Linked DNA regions of Homo sapiens: region 1 is linked to region 2. Evidence: fine-mapped expression QTL. A gene starts in region 2. The other region holds a variant in brackets. All regions are shown on one strand. Distances are between the middles of the regions. Region 1 overlaps NETO2 (neuropilin and tolloid like 2). Region 2 holds the start of NETO2 (neuropilin and tolloid like 2).

Evidence for each region. PIP is the estimated chance that this variant, and not a neighbour inherited with it, causes the effect.
Region 1: its variant is the best candidate, but not a certain one, in a credible set for the expression of NETO2 in whole blood (TOPMed, PIP 0.51).

Annotation. Positions count from the first base shown.
Region 1 is chr16:47,112,803-47,115,550 of GRCh38, forward strand. The region is part of intron 6 of NETO2 (neuropilin and tolloid like 2); the gene reads right to left. Among named protein-coding and RNA genes, the nearest start is that of NETO2, 30 kb to the right of the region's middle. The variant T/C (reference allele first, on the strand shown) is at 1,405.
Region 2 is chr16:47,142,477-47,145,496 of GRCh38, forward strand. It overlaps NETO2 (neuropilin and tolloid like 2), which reads right to left and starts at 1,469. Exons shown (of 9, transcript NM_018092.5): 1 at 1,103-1,469. The coding sequence starts at 1,136. ITFG1-AS1 (ITFG1 antisense RNA 1) reads left to right here and starts at 1,592. Exons shown (of 4, transcript NR_110904.1): 1 at 1,592-2,018. RefSeq lists silencers at 450-599, 770-1,609, 1,670-1,999.

The DNA of each region.
Region 1 (2,748 bases), 30 kb before region 2:
AAAAATTTGTGAATATGGAATTATCTTTTCAAGGAATATTTCAATGAAGAATGAGATCTAATAAATATTGTTTAATTTCACTTAAAGCACACTTAATATTTTCATACTTACATATCTATAAAAATATGTTGTATTGTTCCATATATTTTAAAACCTCATACCAATTATAGAAATAAATCACTATGTATCCATTCTCCTATTGGGCATTTAGCTTGCTTCTACTTTTATAATTAGCTAATACTGCTGTAAACATTGTTGTCTTCTCTTTATGCACAGGTATGACGATTTCATTTGGGTATACATCTAGAAGTATACTTGTGTAGTAGCATGTGACCATTTTCAGCTTTACCAGAGCACATCCGAAATAGCTCTCCAAAGTGGTTGTACCAATTTATATACATTTTTCTCTTTACAGTTGAATTCTAACGAGACAATTTATACTTCTAAAGCAAATTCTTTGAGTCTGCTTGCTCTACTCAATCCACTACTCAGTCCTTGCTGACACTTCAAGAACAGTTCCACAACCCACTCAACTTCTCTTGTGCTGTCACTGTGCAGTCAAAATCCATCTCCAGTCTTCATCCCTGGTAAGCAATGATCTGTTCTTTGTCCTACAGTTCACTTTTTCCAGAATTTCATATAAATGAAATCACACAGCATGTATCCTTTGAGTCTAGCTCATTTTATTTAGCATGATGCATTTGGGGTTACTGCATGTAGCTGTAGTTTATCCCTTTTTATTGTTGAATAGATGTTACTATATGGATGTACCACAGTTTATTCTTTTTTTTTTTTTTTTTTTTTTGAGATGGAGTTTTTGCTCTTGTCGCCCAGGCTGGAGTGCAGTAGTGCAATCTTGGCTCACTGCAACCTCCGCCTCAAGGATTCAAGCAATTCTCCTGCCTCAGCCTCCCAAGTAGCTGGGATTACAGGCACCTGCCACCAGGCCCGGCTAATTTTTTGTATTTTCAGTAGAGACAGGGTTTCACCATGTTGGTCAAGCTACTCTTGAACTCCTGACCTCAAGTGATCCCCCCACCTCAGCCTCCCAAAGTGCTGGGATTATAGGCGTGAACCATCGCACCTGGCCTATTCTTTTAAAAGCTAAAGAACACTTGAAACATTTCTAGTTTTTGGTTATTACAGATAAAGTTGTTATGAACATTTACTTATAGGTTTTTTTCCATAAACATAAGCTTTCATTTCTCCCGGGTACCCATCCAGAAGAGACGGCTGAGTCACACAGTTACTTTATAGGAAACCACCAACCTGTTTCCCAGAGCGGCTCTATCATTTTGCACTCCTACCAGGACTGTATCAGAGTTTCAGCTGCTCTACATAGTTCCCAGCACTTAGTGATTTTTCTAAATTACAGTTATTCTAATGGAGAATAGTGCCATCTCA[T/C]TGTGGTTTTAATTTGCATTTTTGTAATGATTAAATCTTCTGTGGTGAAGTATCTGTTGAAATCTGTTTCATAATTGGGTTTTGTTCTTATTGTTGAGTTTTGAGTTCTGGATGAAAGAAATCTTTTCATAGGTGATTTTTTTTCTCCCAGTCAGTGGCTTTTTTTTTTTTTTCTCACTCAACAGTGTCTTTCACAGAGAAAAGCTTTTTCATTAGTCCAATTTATAAATTTCTTTTTTTTTTTTTTTTTTTTTTTTTTTTTGAGATGGAGTCTCGCTCTGTTGCCCAGGCTGGAGTGCAGTGGCATGATCTCGGCTCACTGCAAGCTCCGCCTCCCGGGTTCATGCCAGTCTCCTGCCTCAGCCTCCTGAGTAGCTGGGACTACAGGCCCCCGCCACCATGCCCAACTAATTTTTTGTATTTTTAGTAGAGACGGGGTTTTACCGTGTTAGCCAGGATGGCCTCGATTTCCCGACCTCGAGATCCGCCCGCCTCAGCCTCCCAAAGTGCTGGGATTACAGATGTGAGCCACCGCGCCCAGCCTGAATTTTTCTTTTATGGATACTCTTTCGGTGTTGCATCTAAGAACTCTTTGTCTAACCCAGTAAGATTCTTTTCATATATTCTCCTCTAAATGTTTTATAATTTTACATCTATGTCCATGATTTATTTTGAGTTAATTTTTAAATACAGTGTTGGATGTAGGTGAGGCAACACCTACACTCAACAGGTGAGGGTTCATTTTTTTTTTCTTTGAATATGGAGGTTCAATTGTTCCAGCACCATCTGTTAGACTATCCTTTCTCCACTCAATTTCCTTTGAATGTCAAAAAAATTAACAAATCATATTTGCAGAAATCTAATCTCTGGACTATCTTGTTCCATTGATCTGTGTGTCTGTCCTTTGTCAGTACCACAGTCTTGGTTACTGAAGCTTCACATTAAGTCTTGAAATCAGGTCATGAGTCTTCCATGTTTGTTCTTTTTCAGAATAATTTTGGCTTCTGTAATCCCTTGCTTTTCCATTACATTCTAGAATCAGTTTGTCAATCTTTACAAAAAATATAGCTGTGATTTTGATTGAAATTGTATTCATCTGTGTAGATCATTTTCATAAGAACTGACATTTTAGCACTACTGGGCCTATCAATACATTGACACAGTATATTTACTTAGGTCATCTCTGAATATTTTCATTATGGTCTTTTAAGTTTTCAGTTAACAGATACTACACAGTTTTTTTTGGTGGAGTAATATTTTAAATGGTACTGTTTTCTTAATTTTGAACTACAGTTTTCATTGCTAGTATATAAAAATTCAACTGATTTTTTTTTTTCTTGAGAC
Region 2 (3,020 bases):
TAGGGAGCAGGAAAAAAGTCACTCTACAAATATTAAGATACAGTGCTGAGTTATACATAACACCGTTAATAATGCCTCAGCCGTACCCTCGAAATTTTTAAAAAAAGAACATGTTACGACATTACAAACACGTCAGCTTTCAATTTAAATCAGCAGGGGGAAAAAGGGAAGTCCTTTACTGAGTGGTGGTGCTGTTTTCCCTCTGGAAATTGAAAAGACGATTTATTCAGTCCGAGTTTCAGGAGCAACTTTGTATCCCAATCCTAATTATCTATGTATATAAATTTTCATCTAAATTACCACCTCCTGGGAAATGCAAAGCCGGTGGAGTAGGTTTTAGAGCTCTGTGCTCTGGACAAGCCAACTGTTTTAATTCCCAGTACAACAAATTAGTAAGAACCGAACACCAGCGGCGGGGAATTCTGAGACCTCTGGCGGAGCGCGAGGAGCGCCGCGTCCCGGGAAGCACCCGAGCAGCAGCGCTCCCCGGGGGCCGGGACAAGCCGGGTCCGCGGCGCCCGCGCGCCGCCCCCGGAGCCCGCAGTGGTGCCGCAGCCTCCGTGGCCGCAGCAGGTGGGACCCGGCTGGCCCAGCAGGCCCCGTTCCCCGCCGCGAGGTGCAGGCGCCGCGGGGCTATTCGAAAACCACTGCACGACGTCACGGCCGCGGCTTTTATTGTTCTCGTGGAATTACTTTTTGCCATCACATCTGGAGAAAGAGCGGCCTCCGCTCCACGACAGGAATCTCACAACTTTGCAAAGGGATGCGCGGAATTCTACGGAAGCGGCGCGAGGGCGCAGCCCGGAGGGCCCTGCTGGGCCCAGGGGCCTCCTGGCCGCCTTCCCGACCCGATCCCTCTTCCCACACGCGCCCCGCGAACGTCGGCCGGACTCGCAGGGGTCGGAAGCGGCGCGCCCGGAGAGCCGGCGGAGCCGGGCAGGGCTCGCGCCCCGCGGTCCGCTCCGAGTAGCCGCGAGCCCCGCCAGACAAAGAGGCGCGTCGGGTCCCGGGCGCGGGTAAGGGACGCAGAGGCGCGGGCAGGGCGGCGCGCCAGCCTCGGCCCGCAGGGGGCGCCGTCCGTGGCCCCAGCCCCGGTCCTTACCTTTGAGGACCGAGCAGAGCCGCTCCAGGGCCATGTTCCCGAGCTGCCCGGCGCTTCGCGAAGGGCTGAGGTAGCGGCGGCGGTGGCTCGGCGCTCACGGCTCGGCGCGGCGGCGACGGCCCCACTCCGTCCCCATCGCCGGCCAGCAGCTGCCTCCCCGCTCCCCTGAGGAGAGCTCAGGTCCTGCGGCCCGCCATGCCCGAGCCCCACAGTGGGCTCCCGCGCGGCCCGAGCACCCCGACGGGCGCCGCCTCCTGCTCCGCGGCGCCCCGTCCCATCGACCGCCCGAGGGCCGAGGAGTGCGGACGCGCGGCGCGGGACCGGCAGGCAGCTCCGCCCGCGGCCCCGGCGCGGGATCCACTGAAGTGGCGGGCGCGGGGCGCCCAGGCTCATTTAAGGAGGGAGCGCGAGCGCCGCGTGCCGGCTGCGCCGCCTGTGCGCATGTGCCCGCCCCGCCCCGCCCCGCGCCGCGCCTCGCGCGCCCGCCGCGGCCTCGCGCCGTGGGACGGCGTCGCTCCCCGCCGGCTGCCGTTAGGGCTGGGAGCCGGCTGGGCGCGGGGGTAGTGAGGGTGCCTCTCGCCGTGGCTGCGCGGCGGCCTCGTCCGAGAGGCCGGCGCCGGGGCAGTGACCGGCCCGTGCCCAGCCGCCGCGCAGGGCGCCCGGGGCAGCTGGCCGAGCCCTCGATGCCTCCCGTCTGACGGAGGCGCCCGGGAAGCGCCGCCCACCTCGGCCCCGCACCCTCGCCGGCCTGCCGGGTCTCCGCCAGCCCTAGCAGACAGAGAGGGGCGCCGGTCCCTAGTCCCCCAGACCTCCATTCAAGGTCAAAACTTTGCCCAGCTCAGCCTTGCTCGACCCTGGGCAGGGAAGCGCGGACATCGGCAGAGGGAGCCCGAGGCTCTCCGTGCCCTTCGCGCCGGTGAGTTCCCGACCCGCGGCGCTGCCGGCGTTTCCCTAGCGCCCGCCAGGTTGACAGGCACTTTAGTACCAACTCCTCAGACTCCCCCTCATGAAGTAGGTTTTAGGGGATTGGAAAGTCGAGGCCAGAGAGGTGAAGCCCTTCGTCCAGAGCCGCGTAGCGAATGAGCGGCAGGGCTGTGCACCTCCCCCGGGGCTGCCCTCCTAGCAGCTAACCACTACGCTGGGCAGCTTCGCCAGCTGATGGGAGTCTCCAGGTCTGCCAACAACTGCCTGGCTGTTGGTGGTATTCATGATCCTGCTTTATTTTCTCCACAGCGGTTATCACACTGATATGACCTTCCTCATTTATTTATTTGTTCATCCTTTATATCTCCCTCACCCTCACACCATTAAAATATCAGCTGCTTGCAGGCAGGCCGACTGCATTCATTTTTTTCACTCCACACATACGTATTGGGTGTTAATTATGTGCAGAAGACAATGATTGGTGCTGGAGATAACAACCGTGATCAAGGCCTTACCATAATAGAATATTTATGCCTGTCTCTGCGTGTAGTAGGAACTCTGTAAACGTTTGTCTAACCAATTGTAGCTAAAGACAATGTCAGGCAACTGAAACATTTTTCAGGTGTTAAGCTCTTCTCTCTCACTTTGTATTCCTTCAAGAAAGGTACAAAAGCATAAATAATTCATGAGATTTACAAAGGAAAAACATACTTAACACCAATTAATATCGAGGTGTTTCACCCTTTGCCATGTGCTGTGAATGGGGGCATAAAAGATGGGTAAGTTTGGGTTCCTAAAGGTAACCACCTACTACAGTTAAGATCGCACACGAGAACCAATTAGGAAATAAAACATTTAAGAACTTTTTCCCACGGATATGAAAAGGTGGCTCACGCATGTAATCCCAGAACTTTGGGAGGCTGAGGCAGGCGGGTCACCCGAGGTCAGAGGTTTAAGACCAGCCTGGCCGACATGGTGAAACCCCATCTCTACT